Homo sapiens: one gene and its partners. The protein of the gene in region 1 interacts with the protein of each later gene in a biochemical or structural test. Each region holds a gene or a part of one and is shown in the gene's direction. Other genes may lie near its edges.

Evidence for each region. Proteins that work in one complex are often made in the same cells at the same time.
Region 2: of the proteins of AHSG (region 1) and FAM20C, one has a biochemical effect on the other in vitro, tested with the Homo sapiens proteins (one study listed by IntAct).
Region 3: the proteins of AHSG (region 1) and INSR form a complex in vitro, tested with the Homo sapiens proteins (one study listed by BioGRID).

What each region holds. Positions count from the first base shown.
Region 1 is NC_000003.12:186,615,640-186,622,288, forward strand, and holds the end of AHSG (alpha-2-HS-glycoprotein isoform 2 preproprotein), read left to right. Parts: intron 1-45; coding exon 46-156; intron 157-803; coding exon 804-888; intron 889-1,544; coding exon of another isoform or gene 1,545-1,547; coding exon 1,548-1,711; intron 1,712-2,896; coding exon 2,897-2,998; intron 2,999-4,217; coding exon 4,218-4,301; intron 4,302-4,946; coding exon 4,947-5,291; 3' UTR 5,292-5,679; downstream 5,680-6,649. UniProt on the Homo sapiens protein: Promotes endocytosis, possesses opsonic properties and influences the mineral phase of bone. Shows affinity for calcium and barium ions.
Region 2 is NC_000007.14:187,808-196,225, forward strand, and holds the start of FAM20C (extracellular serine/threonine protein kinase FAM20C precursor), read left to right. Parts: upstream 1-4,763; 5' UTR 4,764-5,392; coding exon 5,393-5,997; intron 5,998-7,746; coding exon 7,747-7,925; intron 7,926-8,418. UniProt on the Homo sapiens protein: Golgi serine/threonine protein kinase that phosphorylates secretory pathway proteins within Ser-x-Glu/pSer motifs and plays a key role in biomineralization of bones and teeth.
Region 3 is NC_000019.10:7,115,760-7,123,649, reverse strand, and holds part of INSR (insulin receptor isoform Long preproprotein), read left to right. Parts: intron 1-660; coding exon 661-771; intron 772-876; coding exon 877-1,036; intron 1,037-2,900; coding exon 2,901-3,030; intron 3,031-4,066; coding exon 4,067-4,201; intron 4,202-6,239; coding exon 6,240-6,594; 3' UTR 6,595-7,890. UniProt on the Homo sapiens protein: Receptor tyrosine kinase which mediates the pleiotropic actions of insulin.

The sequences.
Region 1 (6,649 bases):
ATCAGGGGAATAGGTTGCTCACGGCTTCACTCTTTGTCTCCACAGCAGCCCTCCGGAGAGCTGTTTGAGATTGAAATAGACACCCTGGAAACCACCTGCCATGTGCTGGACCCCACCCCTGTGGCAAGATGCAGCGTGAGGCAGCTGAAGGAGCATGTGAGTACCCTTCTTAGGATGACTGTAGGTGGCCCTTCGGCCAGCTCCACCGATTCACCCAGCGTCTCAGCCTGCCTTCTTGGCTAGCCAGGGTGCAGTTTCTAAAATTGCCATTTGTGGCCGAGCGCAGTGGCTCATGCCTATAATCTCAGCACTTTGGGAGGCTGAGGCAAGTGGATCGCCTGAGGTCAGGAGTTCAAGACCAGCCTGGCCAGTATGGTGAAACCCCATCTCTACTAAAAATACAAAAATTAGCTGGACGTGGTGACGGGCACCTGTAAATCCCAGCTCCTCGGGAGGCTGAGGCAGGAGAATCGCTTGAACCCGGGAGGTGGAGGTTGCAGTGAGCCAAGATCCTGCCATTGCACTCCAGCCTGGGCAACAACAGTGAATCTCTATCTCGAAATAATAATAATAATAATCATCATCATAAATAAAATTGCCATTTGATGCCACTTGCCCTGGGGCTGATTTTTACAAGCGTTTAACTATATCGTTGTATCCCTGAAAGCAGAGAGTGCCATGTTTCAGTATTACCCAGCAAAGGCGATTTTGCAAGGGTCACCTTTGACAGCCGTGCCTGGAGGGAGCCTGCCCGGGGTGCGAAGGGGAAGGGCAGCCATCCTCACGTGGGTTTCTTTCTCCAGGCTGTCGAAGGAGACTGTGATTTCCAGCTGTTGAAACTAGATGGCAAGTTTTCCGTGGTATACGCAAAATGTGATTCCAGTCCAGGTACAGATGACTATTCTTATTCTCATTTTTTCCTTGTAGAGAAAGTGGGGAAGGGATCTGAATAATTTTCAACTTAAGTAGTTCTAGCAGCTTTGTCGGTGAGGAAAAGGAGAAGCCAAATTTCCTGGGTTCTGGGATTTTTAAAATTGTGTTTTAAGAAGCTACTCTTGGCCTGGTGCGGTGGCTCACGCCTGTAATCCACCCACCCGAGGCAGGTGGATCACCTGAAGTCAGAAGTTCGAGACCAGCCTGGCCAACATAGTGAAACCCCCATCTCTACTAAAAATACAAAAATGTGGTGGTGCTCGCCTGTAATCCCAGCTACTAGGGAGGCTGAGGCAGGAGAATCGCTTGAACCTGGGAGGCAGAGGTGGCAGTGGGCCGAGATCGCACCACTGCACTCCAGCCTGAGTGACACAGAGTGAGACCCTGTCTCAAAAAAATAAGAAGTTATTCTTACTGGAAGTGAAAATTGCCTCGTGATGATAAGAGCTCCTGCAGAAATGTCAGCATAGCAAAAGCCTTTTGAAGGTTTAGTAAGAAGCAGAGAAAGTGCCTGAAGCTATCTGGGGAATGCCTTAGCCCTTGCTAACGCAGCAGAGCTGGGGCCATGCCAGGGAGAATGGCTGCCCACATCCTGGTTTCCTCTCTCCGAGCAGACTCAGCCGAGGACGTGCGCAAGGTGTGCCAAGACTGCCCCCTGCTGGCCCCGCTGAACGACACCAGGGTGGTGCACGCCGCGAAAGCTGCCCTGGCCGCCTTCAACGCTCAGAACAACGGCTCCAATTTTCAGCTGGAGGAAATTTCCCGGGCTCAGCTTGTGGTAAAGACTGAGATTCTTTTGACAGGTTGGGCAGTTCGGTGGCACTTCGGGAATGTACTGTACGTGGTGGAGCGGGAGGCAGGGAAGAACAGGCGCAGGGGCAGCGATGAGAAAGCAAGGAGAGGGTTGTTTGGAAAGGGAAGAAAGCATCCTAAGGGGGTATGAGGCTCCTGAGTGTCATGAGGACCCCAACACCCTCAGCGCCTCCCCCATGCTGAGCCACTGTAACGTCCAGCAGCCACAGCTGCCGGCAGGTACATCCCCACTCCCTCCGTTCCAGCTAAAACCAAAGCTCAGTGTCAGCTGGTAGAGTTGCCCACGTCGGCCAGAAGCACTCACTGTAAATTTGCTGGGCTCCAGTACCACCCATCTCCGCTGAACATCTGCCACAGACTCGTAATTAATACTCACTTGTGCTGACAAGCTTATAATGGCAAGATCTTAAAATGCCTTTCGAGTCACTGGAGAAAACATCTCATTGTACTGTGGGTGGTTTAGCACATTGGAATTCAACAGAATTCAAATGTTTAAGAAAATGTATTCTGGATATCAGCCATGGCCATACTTGGAAATACGCTAGTATAGACGGCAATTCTATTAATCAGAATATGTGATTCTCAGAACATCCCCACCCCAGACTACACCAAATAACAGATATTTTATTGTGTCCATATGCTCCAACTACTTTAAAAAAGAAAAGCTCAAGTGATATCTTCCATACTTTCATCTAAATCTTTTCATTTGAGCCTGCTCTATGAAACAGGTGGAAGAGGTATTAATCTCTTCACTTTCCCACCCTATTTTGGAATAACCTGAACCTTGGGTATCAAGTGCAGCCCAAGAGTGAGGGCTGGGGGGAGGCAGGGTTCCCACTCCTATCAGTCTAATGCTGGCCTTCTGATTCCGGTTTCCTATCTGCAAACTCACCTCCACCCTGAAGGACCGGTGATGGATACTTGCCCCTCCTACAAGGAAGACACAACCCCTACCTCTAAAGCACAAGCACTTGAGAACACAACCCCATAGCAACTGCCCTATGTAAGCCATTGAGGGACATGTCTTCTGGGCCGACGCATGGTCTGCATGAATGGTGCTCCCCGAAGGAGGCTACTTCCCGCTCTCCTTCTCTGCCCTTTTCATTGTAAGTCATCTTTCCTCAAGAGCATTTTCATGTACTCTTCTCAGCCCCTCCCACCTTCTACCTATGTGGAGTTTACAGTGTCTGGCACTGACTGTGTTGCTAAAGAGGCCACAGAGGCAGCCAAGTGTAACCTGCTGGCAGAAAAGGTGAGTGGGCCGGGACCTTGGGGTGTTACCACTCGGACAGAGCTGTTTGTGGAACAGAACATCCTTGGATAGTTTGTATCTTGGGGCTGCAGACAGAGAATAACAGTGCAAATCCCCTCTCCCTGTGGATCACGGCAAGCCTTCTTTTAGGGTGTCACCTCATCCCTTTAAGAGCTGTCATCAAATCATCTCACCCACTGGAAGCACATGAAGTTAGGAGAAAGAGAGAGGCTATTTGCTAATGAAGCCAAGTCACGCCCACCCACTGGGAATGTGAAGTGCACATTTTCTAGACATATAACTCTGATACAAAAGCTTTCAAGTCCTTGAGCCAATAATGTACACTTCTAGGATTTTAGTCTAAAGAAGTCATCAGTGGCCAGGCATGATGGCTCATGCCTGTAATTCCAGCACTTTGGGAGGCCAAGACGGGTGGATCGGGAGGTCAGGAGATCGAGACCATCCTGGCTAACATGGTGAAACCCCGTCTCTACTAAAAATACAAAAAAATTAGCCAGGCTTGGTGGTGAGCGCCTGTAGTCCCAGCTACTCGGGAGGCTGAGGCAGGAGAATGGTGTGAACCCAGGAGGCAGATGTTGCAGTAAACTAAGATCGTGCCACTGCACTCCAGCCTGGGCAACAGAACGAGACTCTGTCTCAAGAAAAAAAGAAAAAGAAAAAGAATTCATCAGTGACATTTGACAGAATATATCTATAAAAATGATTTATTATGGATATAAAGAGACCAAAAAAGAGAGATCTGTATGTCCAACAGGAAGGTGTCATTGAATAATCCATGCACATCAGTAAATAGAAAATTGTGCAGACACTAAAAATTGTGTTTTCAAGGAATAATGAATGATATGAGAAAATGCTATTATGGCAAGTGAAAACACACAGGATACAACATCGTATAGTCACAATGATCTCAATTTTTAAATCATATTTAATAGTATTTTAAAATAAGAAAGAAATGCATCAATGTTAACAGTCCTTCTTTCTAGGCCACCACCAGAAAGGGATTATGGGTAATCTCTCTCACTCTCAAAGTATTTCTGTATTTCCATGTTATATATAGAATCATATACCTCCCACAAGCAGAAACTATAACTTTAAGAAAAATGGTTTTTCAAACTAATTTAAGGTTGGCGCGTCAATGAAATTGGGGGGGATCCATTTTTGAAATTAGTTAAAATAAATCCTCTTTCTCTGTGGGCAGCAATATGGCTTTTGTAAGGCAACACTCAGTGAGAAGCTTGGTGGGGCAGAGGTTGCAGTGACCTGCATGGTGTTCCAAACACAGGTAACAGCTCCGTGAATATTCTTGCCTACACCTTCAGAATACAATGACCCCTTCACATTTATGCAGTGCAGTAGTGATGACAGGACATTTGCTCTCCTGTGCTTCTGAATCTCACAGTATGAAATAACACTGGGGTATGCGGAATCATCAACAAATGGAAGGATATTTTAGCTATGCCTTTCCCTCCCACGAACTAGTGACTACAGGGAAGAACCATCTTACTGTGTAGTTGACAAAGCCACCTTTTTATTTGTGGGAGGTGGGAGTGGTTTTCTGAGTTGCAGAGACCAGGTGGCCAGATCTACCTGTTAGCTCCCAGTGGCTGCAGCTTCAGATGACAAAGAGGGTGGCACTGCTGGGCAAGGGTGAGCCATAGGTGGGGTGCTTTTACTCATTGGACATATGCGTGTAAGTCCACCATCACAAAGACAATCCTAGTGAGGCCGGGGCCAACATAGGCCAGTCACCCCTCCTTGTAACCTTGATGACAATCCCTTGTACTTGGGTAGGTCCTTTCTTGCTAGACTCTTTGCAAATAAAAATGTATAATGTGAGGAAATTGGGTGCCAGTGCCACCTGGGCCTGTGGGTTGTCTTGCCTGGGAGGAGGAAGCAAACTAACTGAAGGAAATGGTCCTTTTTCCAGCCCGTGAGCTCACAGCCCCAACCAGAAGGTGCCAATGAAGCAGTCCCCACACCCGTGGTGGACCCAGATGCACCTCCGTCCCCTCCACTTGGCGCACCTGGACTCCCTCCAGCTGGCTCACCCCCAGACTCCCATGTGTTACTGGCAGCTCCTCCAGGACACCAGTTGCACCGGGCGCACTACGACCTGCGCCACACCTTCATGGGTGTGGTCTCATTGGGGTCACCCTCAGGAGAAGTGTCGCACCCCCGGAAAACACGCACAGTGGTGCAGCCTAGTGTTGGTGCTGCTGCTGGGCCAGTGGTTCCTCCATGTCCGGGGAGGATCAGACACTTCAAGGTCTAGGCTAGACATGGCAGAGATGAGGAGGTTTGGCACAGAAAACATAGCCACCATTTTGTCCAAGCCTGGGCATGGGTGGGGGGCCTTGTCTGCTGGCCACGCAAGTGTCACATGCGATCTACATTAATATCAAGTCTTGACTCCCTACTTCCCGTCATTCCTCACAGGACAGAAGCAGAGTGGGTGGTGGTTATGTTTGACAGAAGGCATTAGGTTGACAACTTGTCATGATTTTGACGGTAAGCCACCATGATTGTGTTCTCTGCCTCTGGTTGACCTTACAAAAACCATTGGAACTGTGACTTTGAAAGGTGCTCTTGCTAAGCTTATATGTGCCTGTTAATGAAAGTGCCTGAAAGACCTTCCTTAATAAAGAAGGTTCTAAGCTGAATGTGGTCATGCTTATTGCGACTTCATCCCAGCTCCCCTCACATGCATAGCCTTTTACCCCAACAAACACAGTGTCCCTAATCAAAATCAAAGTGAAAAGAGAACCAAAAGAGAACAAAAACCTGCTGTATTGCCAGATACAGGAAAAAGTGAGACTAGGATCTTTCCACAACCCATAAGATGTGACCATTTCTTTTTTTTTTTTTTTCTGAGACGGAGTCTTACTCTGTCACCCAGGCTGGAGCGCAGTGGCATGATCTTGGCTCACTGCAAGCTCCACCTCCCAAATTCAAATGATTCCCCTGCCTCAGCCCCCTGAGTAGCTGGGACTACAGGTGCGTGCCACCACACCCAGCTAATTTTTTTTATTTTAGTGGAGACAGGGTTTCACCATGTTGGCCAGGATGGTCTTGATCTCCTCAACTCATGATCCACCCACCTCGGCCTCCCAAAGTGCTGGGATTACAGGCGTGAGCCACCGCACCTGGCCAAGATATGACCATTTCTTTATGAGAAAATAATTCTTCTCATTTTATAAGAGAGAGAAAATATTGCTAAAGGTGGGCCAAGCTCCTGAACTTTGTACAGAATAAACTATCCATTGATTTTCTCCAGTACCGAGGTAAGGAGGGATTGGTAATTAAAACAAGATCCTCACTTTATATCTGTTGTTAATTATGTTTAAGATATACGTTGAGTGTACTGTATACACTTCATTTTATAACACAAGATTGGTCTTCCTAGCCAATCTATTTTAAGGACCCAAGTTAAAGCTGTGACTTGTAGTATCATTAGATAAAGGATGCCTGGACAGGTGAATCCCGTGGACATTTGTAGACACCGTCCAAGTGCTCAGATAGCATATGTGAATAAACCCTCCCCATTTTAGCATGGTCCCTGGGCAATTTCAATTTTTGTCCATCAGCATTAAGTTTTTCCGATCTACCTCAGTGATGGGCCCTTTCAGATGG
Region 2 (8,418 bases), on another chromosome or scaffold:
CTTGGGGGAAACCTGAGGAGGCAGCTGTTCCCCCACTCCCAGAGTGTCCTCAGAGAACCCCTTCCAGACCCCAAGCTCCAGAGCTCGGCCTCAGGTTCCCTTGCTCGGGTCTGGGAACTGGAAGTCGGTCCCGCTCCCCTCCCTGGCCTCTGCCCCATTTTTCTGTCCGCTTCCACGTAGAGCAGACCAGAATATGCCACCCCAAAATATGCCTCTTTGGCATAAGCATTATTTTGAGCTGCTTATTTTGAGAAACTGCAACCACAGGAGAAATTCTGAAAACAAGAGTGGAAGCTGCTGTTCTATGAGAGAAAGTCACATCCGTACAGGCATCTGCGCTCACCAGGGTGCCCCCTCTCTGGGCCAGAAGGCCGCCTGTAAGTCACCGGAGACGCTCATCCATGGAGAAGGCCTGACCCCAGTTTGGGGTAATTTCTTGGGCCCCTCCCCACACACTCTTTCTCTTTGTTTCCGTCGAACATGGTCTTTAAGGCTGAGCTCCAAGCCACGCCTTTGCGACATAGCCTGTCCCGAGTCCGTCCCTTGCAGACCAAGGTATACATGCTATTAAGCTTCTGTTTTTCTCTTGTTATCTGTCTTTTCCACCTTGCAGCACGAAGCTTCCCCCAGGAATCCTCCACGCCCTCACCTGCACCAAGACTTTCAATTAAGAGCAGCAGTGCCCTCCTGGTGTCTGGTGGTGCCAGGGGGCAGGCCTGGTCCTCAGGCCTGGGGTCTTCTGTCCCCCCTTATCCTGGGGAGCCCATCTGTCCCCCTCATTCCTGGGAAGCCCGTCTGCCCCCCTCATTCCTGGGGAGCCCGTCTGCCCCCCTCATTCCTGGGGAGCCTGTCTGCCCCCCCCATTCCTGGGGGACCCATCTGTCCCCCCTCATTCCTGGGGATCCCATCTGTCCCCCTCATTCCTGGGGAGCCCGTCTGCCCCCCTCATTCCTGGGGAGCCCGTCTGCCCCCCTCATTCCTGGGGGGCCCGTCTGTCCCAGGGCTTTGCATACTGAGGCCTCGCAATCCACAAGCTTTCCTAATTCCCAGCTCATCCACATGACAACAGCCCTTCCCCGGGGGCTCTGGCCGACCTCCCTTCGTCCTCACCACACAGCTGCTCTCCCTGCCCCGCCCTTAGCCCTCCTTAGACCCATCCACCCGGCCCCTAGGTGAGCCTCTCCCGACCCAAGACCCAGCGTCGTCCCTCTGTCCCCAGCCTTCCCACGGCCCCCTCACTCAGGACGCAGCCCACAGCCTGGCCCCACCTGCAGACCTTACAGAGGCCACTTGGCCCCTCACACAATGCCCACCTCACAGGCCTTCTCTCCCCGCAGAGGGTCAGACATGCCCCTGCCCCAGCCTTGGCATTTCCACCCCGCAGGCCTCCACGGGGCTGAGCCCTCAGGTACCAGCTTCTGTGCAAAGCCATGCCTGGAGGCCTTCCTGGGCCACGTGGTCTAAGACAGCAATCCCCTCACACCCAGAGCAGGCAGCCCTCCCTGCCCGGGCCGTCTTATTTTCCTATGTCATTCCTGTCACCACCTGGCGCTCACCTTGGCTAACTGGAGCTCCAGCCCCTTTGGACGAAAAGAGCTCCCAGAGCCACTCCCTGGTCTCTGATGGGGCTGTGTGTCCTCTCCAGGTGCCCTCCCCGACAGCCAGCCCCTCCGCCTCTGCACAAGGGAGGGCCCAGGGAGGCTCAGGGCCTGTGTGGCTGTGTGTGTGTCTCTATGTGTCTGTGTGTCTGTGTGTTTCTGTGTATCTATGTGTGTATGTGAATGTGTATCTGTCCATGTATCTGTGTATATCTGTGTCTGTGTGTGTGTGTATGTCTGTGTCTGTGTGTATATCTGCGTCTGTATGTATATATGCGTGTCTGTGTGTATACGTGTCTGTGTACCTGTGTCTTCGTATGTCTATGTGTGTATTGGTGTGTGTCTGTGTGTGTCCATGTGTGATGACATGTGTATCTGTGTCTATGTGTGCATCTATGTATATCTGTGTGTATGTCTTTGTGTATCTATAGATCTGTGTCTATGTGTATATTATCTCTGTGTTCATCTGAGTATTGTATGTCCATGTGTGTCTACATGTGCCTGTGTCTGTATCTGTGTCTGTCTATGTGTCTATGTGTGTATCTGTGTGTCCGTGTGTGTGTGTCCATATATCTGTCTATGCATGTATCATCTGTGTGTCTGTGTATTGTGTATCCATGCATATATCCGTAACTATGGGTATGTCTGTGTGTGTTTGTGTCCACGTGTGTGTATCTGTGTGTGTCTATATATCTGTGTCTATGTGTGTGTCTGTGTCCACGTGTGTGTATCTGTGTGTGTCTATATATCCGTGTCTGTGTGTATCTGTGTGTATCTATGTGTGCATCTGTGTGTGTCTGTTTTCTCTTTGTTTTTATGGTGTCCACGGATGGGCCGACTGAACCACCAAATTCCTCCTCAGAGCCCAGTAAAGGCACCAGGCGGAAGGGTCTGGCGGAGGGTTGGCCGCTGTCTCCTCACTCCTCAGCGGGGTCCTGTCTTCCGACTTTTGTCTCGCGCCGCCGCAGCCTGTGGACTCCTGGGCCCTCCTCTGAGAGCCTGCGCTGTGCCTGGCCCCGGGCGGAACTTTGAACGAGGCTCCTGTCTTAACTCGACTGCTTGTGCTTGGGGGAGATAAACAATAAACAGGAGCAGAAGAAAGTGTCCTCAGACCACGGCGGGTGCTGTTGGGAAAACAGTGGCGGGGCAGGGAGGGGGGCGCTTCTGAAGGACCTGGCGAGGTAGAGGCCACTGTTCTAAGAGGCAACAGACGAGATGAACCAGGACCCTCTGCGAGGGAGGGAGGCGTCCAGGGGTGCACACGGGTCCAGATAGCTGCCGGGCTCCCAAAAACCACTCTGGGGGTGAGGATGGGAGGGGAGAGGAGTTGGGGGCAGGAGGCAAGTGAAAGTAAGTGCCCAGGGAACCTCCATGAGGCCCCCCACACCGGATAATAGTGTTCCATGGGGTCTGCTCAGCCCCATGTCTGCCCCAAGACACTAGCCACAGCTCTGCGTCGAGGTCCTGTAGACCACGGGAGAGATGGGGGGGCCAGGAGCCTATAGAACTCCAAGTCCAAGGGGACCCTTGCTGGGAGAACACAGGCCAAGACCTTCCTTCCTGCCACAGGCTTCTGTCCCTGCTGTCTGCTCCCCCAGGACTCCCCCCACACCCGGGATCTTCCTCCTCACCCTCCTTGGCCTCTCTCAGTGACCCTGTCTACACACAGATGTGCTGTCCATGTGAGTGGAAGGAAGGAAGGATGAGGTCCACTCACAGGGGTGAAGCTGTCTCCTGAGGGGGCAGCCCACCTCCAGGTCACACCGCCCCACCCAACACAGCCTCCAGTCCAGCTCCAGGTGGGCCGCACCCAGCCCTTCACTCACTTCAAATGGCCCAAGACGCATGGATTCCACTGGCCAGCCGGACTGGAACAACTTCTCCCCTTATAAGTATCTAGTGGGTGCCCACGGAATGCCAGGCAATGGGCCAGGCTCAGAGATGAGTGATTCCTCAGGAACAATGGGCTCAACGCCCTTAATTCACATCAGAGGAAACTGAGGCTCAGAGAGGGCGGAGAGGGCCCTGGTAACACAGCCAGCCGGTGAAAGTAAGAGGGGGGGCCCAGGCCCTGCTCCCGGCCCACCCGCCTGGGCTTGCTGGCGAGGCTGCTGGCCCAGGCAGTCTGGGCACTGTGGAAGCAGCCGGCTTGAGGCACAGGGGATGTGGCCTCCTCCCACACACTTACCTCCCTGACTACATCTTAGGCTGACATCCAGATTAACTCATATTCCCTACAGGGAGCTGCACGGCCAGAAGCTGCTGGTTGCAGAAGCCACCAGCTGGTTGTACAAGCACCGCTCCCCTGGTTGTGGGTGACAGATGAGATGCACTCACGTGAACACACATGCATGTGCACACACACATGCACACAGACGCACACACAAACACACACAGGCATACACACGCACACGCACATCCACACACACACATGCGCACACACACGCACACGCCTGCACTCACACACCCCCGTCGGCCCCAAGCAGGAAGGCGCCCCCGGCACACCAGCCCCTCTCAGCGCCCCCAGCGGGCCCGGCGCCTGGAGGGTTAAGGCGGGCGCGTCCCGCGGGTGGGCGGGGGGGGGGGGACGGGACCGGTGCCGGGAGCTCCGCTGCCCTGGCGTCCCCTGGGTCCAGGCCCAGTCGCTCCTTGGGCCTCTCTCGCGGGGCCGCCTCCGCCTCCTCCTTGCCGAGACGGGCGTGGGGCACGGGGTCGCCGCCCGGCGGGGAGCTCATCCGGCGGCGCAGACGCCCCGCGGCTCCGGGGAGGGACTTGGCCTGGGCCCCGGCCCCGCGCTCCTCTGGGGAGGAGCCGAGAGGCTGCAGCTGGCGGCGGCGGCCCCGGGCGGGAGGGGGTCCCAGGAAGCGGCCAGGCCGGAGCCCCCCACTCGGCCGCAGCTGCTGGCCTGGCCAGAACCGAGCGCGCCCTCCCGGTCTCCGCCGCTTCCCTCTGCAAACCGCGGGCAGGAGGAGCCCTCTCCTTAGCGGGCCCGGAGCTCAGAGGCGTCGCGGGGCGCGGCCGAGGGGAGGAGGAAGGAGAGCGGGAGCGCAGCCGGCCCGGGCCCAGCCGTGACTCGTGGGGCGGCGGCTCCGCCAATCTGTGGGCGCTGACGCGGGGGGCGGCTCCGCGGCGCTCGATATCTGCCCGCCCGGGACGCGGGGCGCCGAGAGGCTCGGCCAGGCGGGAGCTGCGCTCGGGGCGGCCGCTGCACCTGCCCGGGACCCCGCCGGCCGCTCCCCGCGCCCACCCCTTCCGCCCTTCGCCCCCCCCTTCCCCCCAGCCCCGGTCTCCCGGGCGCGGCGTGAGAGCAGAGCCCGGCCCGGAGGAGCCGCCCCTTCCCCGCCCGCCCGCCCGGCGCCTGGAGAGGAGCGCGCTGAGGATCGGGACGCCTGCGGCCGCCGCCACCGCCCAGGCCCGTCGCGCCCCGGCCGGGATGGACCCACACGCCCGATGAGCCCCGCGCCGGCGGCTGCGAGCGCCGAGCCTCCCCCTGCTGCGGCCCCAGCCGCCCCCCGCGCGCCCGGCTCCGCGGACCAGGACCCCTGGGCTCCCCGGCTGAGGGCGCGGCCGCTCCGGAGAGGCCGAGCGGGGACGGGCCCGAGATGGCGCGGGGACCCAGCGCTCCGGCGGCGGGCGCCCTGCACGCGGCCCGGGCCCGGGGACAGCCCCGGAGCTGGTAGCCGCCCGGCACCGATGGACCTTGACCCGCGAGGCGGCGCCGCGCTCGTGCCCAGCTGCAGCTAGAGGGGCGCGCGGGCAGAACGCGCTCCAGGCCCGGGCCGGCCCGCGCGGCCATGAAGATGATGCTGGTGCGCCGGTTCCGCGTGCTCATCCTGATGGTGTTCCTGGTGGCCTGCGCGCTGCACATCGCCCTGGACCTGCTGCCCAGGCTGGAGCGACGCGGCGCGCGGCCCTCGGGGGAGCCCGGCTGTTCGTGCGCGCAGCCCGCCGCCGAGGTGGCCGCGCCCGGCTGGGCCCAGGTTCGGGGCCGCCCCGGGGAGCCCCCGGCCGCCTCCTCCGCCGCCGGCGACGCGGGCTGGCCCAACAAGCACACGCTCCGCATCCTGCAGGACTTCAGCTCCGACCCCTCCTCCAACCTCTCGTCCCACTCGCTGGAGAAACTGCCGCCCGCGGCCGAGCCGGCCGAGCGCGCCTTGCGGGGGCGGGATCCCGGCGCCCTAAGACCCCACGACCCCGCGCACCGGCCGCTGCTGCGAGACCCCGGCCCGCGTCGGTCCGAGTCGCCCCCCGGCCCCGGCGGAGACGCCTCCCTCCTGGCCAGGCTGTTCGAGCACCCGCTTTACCGGGTGGCGGTTCCGCCGCTCACGGAGGAGGACGTCCTGTTCAATGTGAACAGCGACACCAGGCTCAGCCCCAAAGCGGCGGAGAACCCGGACTGGTGAGTGGGGGCTGGCAGGTGCCCACCCCCAAGGGAGCCGTGAGCCCAAGGCATGGTGTAGAGAGGTTCAGGGGCCCCAGAGGGCCGCCCCCCATGGAAGAGGCCGGGCAGGGAGTGTGGTGCGGGAGGAGGCAGCCGCCTACCTCAGGGCGCTGCCTTTGTCTCCAGAATAACCTCCTCCTTGGGAGGGGCTGCCGGCTGGTCCGGGAGCTGTGCCCTGTGGCTGCTGGTGAGGAAGCCAGACCCCGCGCCCTTTAGAAGCGAGTCCTGACCAGCCGTGGTCACCAGCTTGGGAAATGGGGTCAGGCAATGAATGAATGAGTTGGTGAGGGAAGGAGCCAGGCTGCCGCTGGGCTTTCAGACACTTGGCGAGGGTGCTCTGGGTGGGCACCTTGGAGAAGGTCTGGATGTGCCTATTGAGTCTTTTAAACCCAGTGGCTGGAGCAGAATTATCAGAGGGGCTTGCTGGCAGCCGTGAGGTGCAACAAGGCGGCCCAGCCAGCAAGGGCGGTGGGTGTGCTGGCTGCAAAGAGATGATGGCTCGATAAAGGGCGAGAAGCCACGGCAGGAACCTCTCTTTAAACTGTCCTGGCTAAGCCCTTTCCCCACCCCCCGGCCCCTCCCTCCGCCACACAGATCAAAACAAGCAGATGCTACACCGAAGCAGTGGAACATTAACCACGACAAGGCCAGAATAAGTAACTACCTGCCGAAGGTTACCCCAGCAGCAGAGGGGGAGACCAGCCTTCCAAAAGATCTGGTTGAAAGTCCCTTCTTCCCTGAAATGTCCAGGCCCAGTGTCTTCTGTCTAAACACACTGGCTGTTTGGAAGCCTCTGAGCCTTGCCTGCTGGTCAGGTTCAAGGAAATGCTTGGAAATTTGAGAACCAGAGCATTGGCCTGGGCTGTGGCTCTCGGCAGGGAGAGACGGCCGCCCAGAGCAGCGAGTGGCCAGGAAGTGTATCCTAGCCCCCCACCCCGCCCCCGTGTCCACCGCAGGACAGAGCTTCGGCAGAAAGCACCTCAGCTTTAGGTGAATTCGAGCTAGGACAAGTTCCGCGTTTCCCTCCAGCCCAGCAGGCAGACGGAGGGTCTGTCCCTCCTCCAGAACGGTCCCTTGACCCCAGAGATGTGAGGACAGGCTGCGTGGGCGGCGGGTCCTCCATGGGAGCCTGGGCTGGAGAGAGTGCTGCCTCCTTCCTCTCTCCCCACCCAAGGCTGCTCTCATTAAAATCAAATTTAGCCTCTTGCATCATTGTGCCCCTGGTTGTTGGAACAAAAGCAGAGAGCTGGGGAAGGTTCCTGACAGACTGGGCGTGTCTGTGAGTTTCATGCAGCCTGTGGTCAATGGTAGGTTCTCCCCTCTACTCCAGGGGAGGGCCACAGCCCCTCGCACCCTCAGCTGAGGTCATGGTTGGGCCATTTCGGTGACCCTGGGACAGACGTGGCGGGGATGGCAGGGCAGCGCTGACGTCCTGGAATTAGTTTTGCTGTAGTTAGAGCTGTCTGTGGTGTCTCCAGAGGGTGAGTAAGAATTACAGGCCTTTCACCGTGTTATTAGTTGGCAGCCGAGCGGCCACAGAAGAAAGCGCAGACGTTGCAGGGCCCTCTTTAAGCAGAGGCGCCTTCAACACATCTGCACTTGCTTGAACCCAAAGTTAAAAACACTGGCGTCGGTGCCCTCTCCCCGTCATCCGACTCACGGGCCTGTTCTTTCCATGCTGATGTTCGTCCTCGCTGCTCCCTGCAGGCCGCATGCGGGTGCTGAAGGTGCAGAATTCCTCTCCCCCGGGGAGGCGGCCGTGGACTCCTATCCCAACTGGCTCAAGTTCCACATTGGTATCAACCGGTACGAGCTGTACTCCAGACACAACCCGGCCATCGAGGCCCTGCTGCACGACCTCAGCTCCCAGAGGATCACCAGCGTGGGTAGGTGTCCTTGGGTGCACTCAGGGCCGTCTGTGTGCCGGCTGTGTGGCATCAGGGCTGCTGGGGCAGGCTATGTGTTAGAGAGGTCTGGGAGGCCGTTGCTCATTACGGCAGCGTCACCTCCTGCAGCAATCTGCACGGGCAGCGAGGAGGGACAGAGGGCTCGCGTCTCGTGTGCTCTCACACTGGATGTGCTCCTGATCTGCCGCACGATGAGCGGGGAGACGCCTGGACAGCCGGTCCACTGCGCTCTGCGTCCTCACCTGGGTGGTCCCGGGGGTGCCAACTGGATGACAGAGTCCTTCCCTCCTGGGGTAGAGGAATAGAGGGGTATCTCTGGCGGCGGTGACCCCTCCACCGGAAGCGTGTGCATGGAACTCTCCTGCTTTTCTACACACGACCCTGGCTGGGTGGGGAGACAGCCATGAGCCTGCTTCTTGTGGTTTTGAAGCCGTCCTTCGTCAGACCTCAGCAAGGCGCTGTGCAGTTTCAT
Region 3 (7,890 bases), on another chromosome or scaffold:
CCCCCAGCTGACTCCAAACCCTTTATACATTAGGAGCAAATGCTATGGAAACATGAAGAAAGGGAGGAAAGGAGGGTTGGACAGGGGTGTATTTGAGCAAAGACTTAGAGGACATGAGGAGCTGGGCCCTGTGGATGTGGCAGGGAACAGAGAGCCAGGCAGAGGGAATGATTAAAATACAAAGGCCTGGCTGGGTGCAGTGGCTATAATCCCAGCACTTTGGGAGGCTGAGGCAGGCGGATCACCAGAGGTCAGGAGTTCAAGACCAGCCTGACCAACATGGAGAAATCCTGTCTCTACTAAAAATACAAAAATTAGCCGGGTGTGGAGGCGGGCACCTGTAACCCCAGCTACTCGGGAGACTGAGGCAGGAGAATTGCTTGAACCCGGGAGGCAAAGGTTGCAGTGAGCCGAGATCACGCCACTGCACTCTAGCCTGGGTAACAGCAAGATTCCGTCTCGAAAATTAAAAAAAAAAAAATACAAAGGCCTATCTGTCTGCTGTCCGGGCAGGTATGTCTGCTCTCCTAGACCAGGGCTGAGCACGCTGCATCCAGGCCACAGGGTGCTGTGTGTGACATAGACACCAGGGAGGGAGGAGAACCCTGGTGAGTCGAATCACGGACCCTCCTCCAAGAACCCTGGTTGCTTGCTCTGCAGGTGCGCCTCCTGGGAGTGGTGTCCAAGGGCCAGCCCACGCTGGTGGTGATGGAGCTGATGGCTCACGGAGACCTGAAGAGCTACCTCCGTTCTCTGCGGCCAGAGGCTGAGGTAAGCTGCTTCGGGGGACCCAGCGGGGTACTCGGTGGAGCACCCGCTCCTGGCCTCCTCGGATCCCAGTGCTGCTGAAACACCAACCCCGTGTTTCTGTTTTAGAATAATCCTGGCCGCCCTCCCCCTACCCTTCAAGAGATGATTCAGATGGCGGCAGAGATTGCTGACGGGATGGCCTACCTGAACGCCAAGAAGTTTGTGCATCGGGACCTGGCAGCGAGAAACTGCATGGTCGCCCATGATTTTACTGTCAAAATTGGAGGTTCGTCTGGCTTTCTGCTTTGAAAACATAACGACCCAGGCCAGGTTTGATTTCAGAAGGAAGTTGTCTATAATGAGCCGTTAAGTCTTTTCTGATAATATAAAGGGGCAAGATACTTCTTTTTTTTTTGTGGGGTTTTTTTTGTTTTGTTTTGTCTTTTTGTTTTTGAGACGGAGTCTTACTCTGTCTGTTGCCCAGGCTGGAGTGCAGTGGTGTGATCTCAGCTCACTGCAACCTCCACCTCCCAGGTTCAAGTGATTCACCTGCCTCAGCCTTCCAAGTAGCTGGGACTACAGGTGTGCGCCACCATGCCTGGCTAATTTTTGTATTTTTAGTGGAGATGGGGTTTCATCCATGTTGGCCAGGATAGTCTTGATCTCCTGACCTCGTGATCCTCCTGCCTCGGCCTCCCAAAGTGCTGGGATTACAGGCGTGAGCCACTGCACCGGCTTTTTTTTTTTTTCTTTTTTCTGACATGGAGTCTTGCTCTGTCGCCCAGGCTGGAGTGCAGTGACAGGATCTCGGCTCACTGAACCTCCACCTCTTGGGTTCAAGCGATTCTCCTGCCTCAGCCTCCTGAGTAGCTAGGATTACAGGCGTGCGCCACCACACCCAGCTACTTTTTGTATTTTTAGTAGAGACGGAGTTTCACTGTGTTGGCCAAGATGGTCTCAAACTCCTGACCTCATATGATCCACCTGTGTTGGCCTCCCAAAGCACTGGGATTACAGGCATGAGCCACTGTGCCTGGCTGGGCAAGATTTTGGATGGGGACCCCCCACCAGCTGTCATTTAATTGCATGTATTGATAAACTCACTTACCCATTCACTTCTTTAAAAGATATGTTTGTAGGACCGGGGGTCCCGCCTGTAATCTCAGTGCTTTGGAAGTCCAATGTGTAAAGACTGCTTGAGTCCAGGAGTTTGAGACCAGCCTGGGCAACATAGTGAGACTCCATCTCCTTGAAAAGATTTTTTAAAAAGTGGGGTGTGGTGGTGCACACCTGTGGTCCCAGCTACTCAGGAGGCTGGGGTGGGAGGATTGCTTGAGCCCAGGAGGTGGAGGCTGCAGTGAGCTGTGACAGCATCACTGCACTCCAGCCTGGGTGACAGTGAGACGCTATTTCAAAAAACAAATAAAAAAGGAATATAGAGGGGACCAGAGCAGCGTGAGATGTGAGGATGAGGAGAGAGGCAGAAACCAGACCCAGAAGGACCTTGCGTGTCACAGCAAGTCATCTCGACATTATCTTACATTAGCAAGGGGCAGCAGGAAGTGATATGATTCTATTTATGACTCAAAAAGACATCTCCTGGCCAGGTGCGGTGGCTCACCCCTGTAATCCCAGCACTTTGGGAGGCTGAGGTGGGTAGATTACCTGAGATCAGGAGTTCGAGACCAGCCTGGTCAACACGGTGAAACCCTGTCTCTACTCAAAATACAAAACATTAGCTAGACATGGTGGCAGACAGCTGTAATCCTAGCTACTCAGGAGGCTGAGGCAAGAGAATTGCTTGAATCAGGGAGGTAGAGGTTGCAGTGAGCCAAGATTGCACCACTGCACTCCAGCCTGGAGGACAGAGTGAGGCTCCATATCAAAGAAAAAAAAAAAGAAAAATGTAGCTTCTTTGTGATTTGGTACCTTCTTTTCCCTCCCTTTAAACAGTAGCCCATCTTCCCCCTTCACTTCCCCATGCGTACCCTCAGAATCCATTCTTACTGGATTTGGCCACCACCCAGGTGAGCGCAGACGTGGGCCAGGTGAACCCCTCTTAGGGCTCTGTGAGAGGTGGGGCAGTCAAGGTGGCAGATGCTAGGACCAAGGCTGAAGGTTAAGAGCGTGTGAACCTTTTGTGTTGTCAGACTTTGGAATGACCAGAGACATCTATGAAACGGATTACTACCGGAAAGGGGGCAAGGGTCTGCTCCCTGTACGGTGGATGGCACCGGAGTCCCTGAAGGATGGGGTCTTCACCACTTCTTCTGACATGTGGTGAGTTGTGTGTGGATGGGTGGATGGACGCTGGGCTTGAATTCCAGGTGCTAGTGAGAGCCAAGAGCGGGGGAAGGAAGCCTGCCATCCTCCTGGACGCCCCATCAAGGAAAGGAAGGCAGCGTCCTGTCTTAGGATCTTCCCACGGCTACTCTTATGTCCTGACTAATCCTGTAGGCATTGTGAACCCCGAAAATCTGAGACAGGTCTCAGTTAATTTAGGAAGTTTATTTTGCCAAGGTTGAGGACGTGTGCCCGTGGCACAGCCTCAGGTGGTCCTGAGGACAGGTGCCCAAGGTGGTCAGAGCACAGTTTGGTTTTATACATTTTAGGGAGACATGAGACATCAGTCAACATATATAAGATGAACATTGGTTCGGTCTGGAAAGACGAGACAACTCGAAGTGGGGAGGGAGCTTCCAGGTTGTAGGTAGATAAGAGACAAATGGTTGCATTCTTTTGAGTTTCTGATGCGCCTCTCCAAAGGAGCCAATCAGATATGCAGGTATCTCAGTGAGCAGAGTGGGGACTCTGAATAGAATGGGAAGCAGGTTTGTCCAAGCAGTTCCTAGCTGGACTTTTTCCTTGAGTTTAGTGATTTGGGAGCCCCAAATTGATTTTCCTTTCACAGCATTTATGAACTGCAGCATGAATTGTTTTATTAAGTGGCTAACCATGTTCTAGAAACCAAGAGATGTGTTTGTGTGTGTGTTTGTGTGTGTATGTGTGTGCATATGTGTGTTTGTGTGTGTTTGCATGTGTGTGCGTGTGTGTGTTTGGGTGTGTGTGTTTGTGTGTGTATATGTGTTTGTGTGTTTGCATATTTGTGTGTGCATGTGTGCGCATGCGTGTTTGTGTGTATTTGCATGTGTGTGCACGTGTATGTGCGTGTGTGTTTGCATGTGTGTGTTTGCATGTATGTGTTGGCATGTGTGTTTGCGTGTGTGTGTGCGTTTGCGTGTGTGTGTTTGCGCGCGCGCGTGTGTGTGTGTGTCTAAATGGCTTCTTTGTTACTACTATCAACTGTCATCGGCAGGTCCTTTGGCGTGGTCCTTTGGGAAATCACCAGCTTGGCAGAACAGCCTTACCAAGGCCTGTCTAATGAACAGGTGTTGAAATTTGTCATGGATGGAGGGTATCTGGATCAACCCGACAACTGTCCAGAGAGAGTGTAAGTGTAGAAAGGGTTTAAGGTGTGTGAGGTGTTCGTTGAAAGGGTATTGCCCTTTACACGTGTGCTTGGTTTTGCCTTTCCTATGTCTACACGCTCACCGTGTTTGCATGCTGTATGTTACAGGTGTGTTTGTGTTTGCATAGCTTGTCTTTACATGCATGCTTGCATTTGCATATTGCATTGTGGTACACACACTTGAGTTCCCATATGTGCTACATGTACGCTTACGTTTGCATATTATATATTTACATAGGTATTTATGTTTGCATATTATATGTTTCTGTGTGCATCAGCATATCATGGCACATGTACACCTCATTTACATATTATAAGCACACATGTTTACATATTATGTCTTTACCTGCCTGCTTGTGTTCACAAATCATATGATTTTCTTGCATATTGTATCTTTGGAAGGTTGCACAAAACACCTATAGCGGTAGTTATCTTGGGAGAAGGGAACTGGAGACCTGGGGTTGGGGGAGAGAGACCTGTTTGCCTGTTAATTTTTTTTTTTTTTTTTTTTTTTTTGAGACGGAATCTTGCTCTGTCACCCAGGCTGGAGTGCAGTGGTGCGAGCTCGGCTGACTTCAAGCTCCGCCTCCCGGGTTCACACCATTCTCTTGCCTCAGCCTCCCGAGTAGCTAGGACTACAGGCACCCACCACCGCGCCTGGCTAATTTTTTTTTTTTTTTGTATTTTTAGTAGAAATGGGGTTTCACCGTGGTCTCGATCTCCTGACCTCGTGATCCACCCACCTTGGCTTCCCAAAGTGCTGGGATTACAGCCGCCTGTTAATTCTTTATACACTTAAAATTTTGTCAGGTAGCTGGGCATGGGTGGCTCACGCCTGTAATCCCAAGCAATTTGGGAGACCGAGGTGAACGATCACCTAAGGTCAGGAGTTCAAGACCAGCCTGGCCAACATGGTGAAACCCCGCCTCTATTAAAAATATAAAAATTACCCAGGCGCGGTCGTGGGCGCCTGTAATCCCAGCTACTCAGGAGGCTGAGGCAGGAGAATTGCTTGAATCGGGGAGGCAGAGGTTGCAGTGAGCAGAGACTGCACCATTGCACTGCAGCATGGGTGACAGAGTGAGATTCTGTCTCAAAAACAAACACAGACACACAAAAATTTTGTCAGGCATACATATTATATATTCCCCCCTCCAAATATATATGCATATGTACATATATATATATTTAGATGAAGTCTCGCTGTGTCACCCAGGCTGGTAGAGCGCAGTGGCACAATCACAGCTCACTGCAACCTTGAACTCCTGGACTCAGCCTCCTGGCTCAACCTCCCAAAGTGCTGGGATTACTCTTGAGCCAGTTTTGAAATGAGGAATCCCTTTTCAAAACCATCTTTCAGGCTGGACAGGATGGCTCATGCCTGGAACCTCAGCACTTTGGGAGGTTGAGGCAGGAGGATGGCTTGAGCCCAGGAGTTCAAGGCTGCAATGAGCTATGATTGCGCCACTGCACTCCATCCTGGGTGACAAAGTGAGAAACCCTGTCTCAAAAAAAAAAAAAAGCGGCCAGGCATGGTGGCTAACACCTGTAATCCCAGCACCTTGGGAGGCCAAGGTGGGTGGATCATTTGAGCCTAGGAGTTTGAGGCCAGCCTGGGCAACATAGCAAAACCCTGTCTCTGCAAAAAATACAAAAATTAGCTAGGCATGGTGGTGCACACCTGTGGTCCCAGCTACTTGGGAGGCCAAGGTGAGAGGATTGCTCGAGCCTAGGAGGCAGAGGCTGCAGTGAGCTATGATCATGCCACTGCACTCCAGCCTGGGTGACAGAATGAGACGCTGTGTCCAAAATAAGAAGAAGAAAAGCAAAAAGAAAACACCATCTCTCAGCACCTCTAGCAATGCTATTTCTGCCTTGACAATTGTCCACACACACAGCCAGCATCTGATGTGAGCACATGTGGTCCGTGGGTGTCGGCTGCAGGGACAAGAGTGGGGGTTTGGGAGGATGCGTGGCAGGGCCCCCAGACTCACCCAGGACGTGTCCTTCTGCCCCGCAGCACTGACCTCATGCGCATGTGCTGGCAATTCAACCCCAAGATGAGGCCAACCTTCCTGGAGATTGTCAACCTGCTCAAGGACGACCTGCACCCCAGCTTTCCAGAGGTGTCGTTCTTCCACAGCGAGGAGAACAAGGCTCCCGAGAGTGAGGAGCTGGAGATGGAGTTTGAGGACATGGAGAATGTGCCCCTGGACCGTTCCTCGCACTGTCAGAGGGAGGAGGCGGGGGGCCGGGATGGAGGGTCCTCGCTGGGTTTCAAGCGGAGCTACGAGGAACACATCCCTTACACACACATGAACGGAGGCAAGAAAAACGGGCGGATTCTGACCTTGCCTCGGTCCAATCCTTCCTAACAGTGCCTACCGTGGCGGGGGCGGGCAGGGGTTCCCATTTTCGCTTTCCTCTGGTTTGAAAGCCTCTGGAAAACTCAGGATTCTCACGACTCTACCATGTCCAATGGAGTTCAGAGATCGTTCCTATACATTTCTGTTCATCTTAAGGTGGACTCGTTTGGTTACCAATTTAACTAGTCCTGCAGAGGATTTAACTGTGAACCTGGAGGGCAAGGGGTTTCCACAGTTGCTGCTCCTTTGGGGCAACGACGGTTTCAAACCAGGATTTTGTGTTTTTTCGTTCCCCCCACCCGCCCCCAGCAGATGGAAAGAAAGCACCTGTTTTTACAAATTCTTTTTTTTTTTTTTTTTTTTTGCTGGTGTCTGAGCTTCAGTATAAAAGACAAAACTTCCTGTTTGTGGAACAAAAGTTCGAAAGAAAAAACAAAACAAAAACACCCAGCCCTGTTCCAGGAGAATTTCAAGTTTTACAGGTTGAGCTTCAAGATGGTTTTTTTGGTTTTTTTTTTTTCTCTCATCCAGGCTGAAGGATTTTTTTTTTCTTTACAAAATGAGTTCCTCAAATTGACCAATAGCTGCTGCTTTCATATTTTGGATAAGGGTCTGTGGTCCCGGCGTGTGCTCACGTGTGTATGCACGTGTGTGTGTCCATTAGACACGGCTGATGTGTGTGCAAAGTATCCATGCGGAGTTGATGCTTTGGGAATTGGCTCATGAAGGTTCTTCTCAAGGGTGCGAGCTCATCCCCCTCTCTCCTTCCTTCTTATTGACTGGGAGACTGTGCTCTCGACAGATTCTTCTTGTGTCAGAAGTCTAGCCTCAGGTTTCTACCCTCCCTTCACATTGGTGGCCAAGGGAGGAGCATTTCATTTGGAGTGATTATGAATCTTTTCAAGACCAAACCAAGCTAGGACATTAAAAAAAAAAAAAGAAAAAGAAAGAAAAAACAAAATGGAAAAAGGAAAAAAAAAAAGAACTGAGATGACAGAGTTTTGAGAATATATTTGTACCATATTTAATTTTTAAAGTCTCTGGTATTAGCCTCATAAGTTATTGACTATTCCCCGGGGTTGGCGGGGAGTGGGGACATGAGTTGGTCTGCCTGTTGTGGGGCCGGGAAGGGGAGGGAGTCAGGCACAAGTGGCCTCTTTGTTTGGTCTTAAAGGCATCCATTTCTGGGAATGAAGCCATGTTCGCTGCTAACACTTTTGGATGTTGTGAGGCCACGTGGAGTGTGTGAGAGACTAGGTTTTATGGATGGTCTGGTTCAGGTACCAGGTCTGCTGGAAGGTTCCT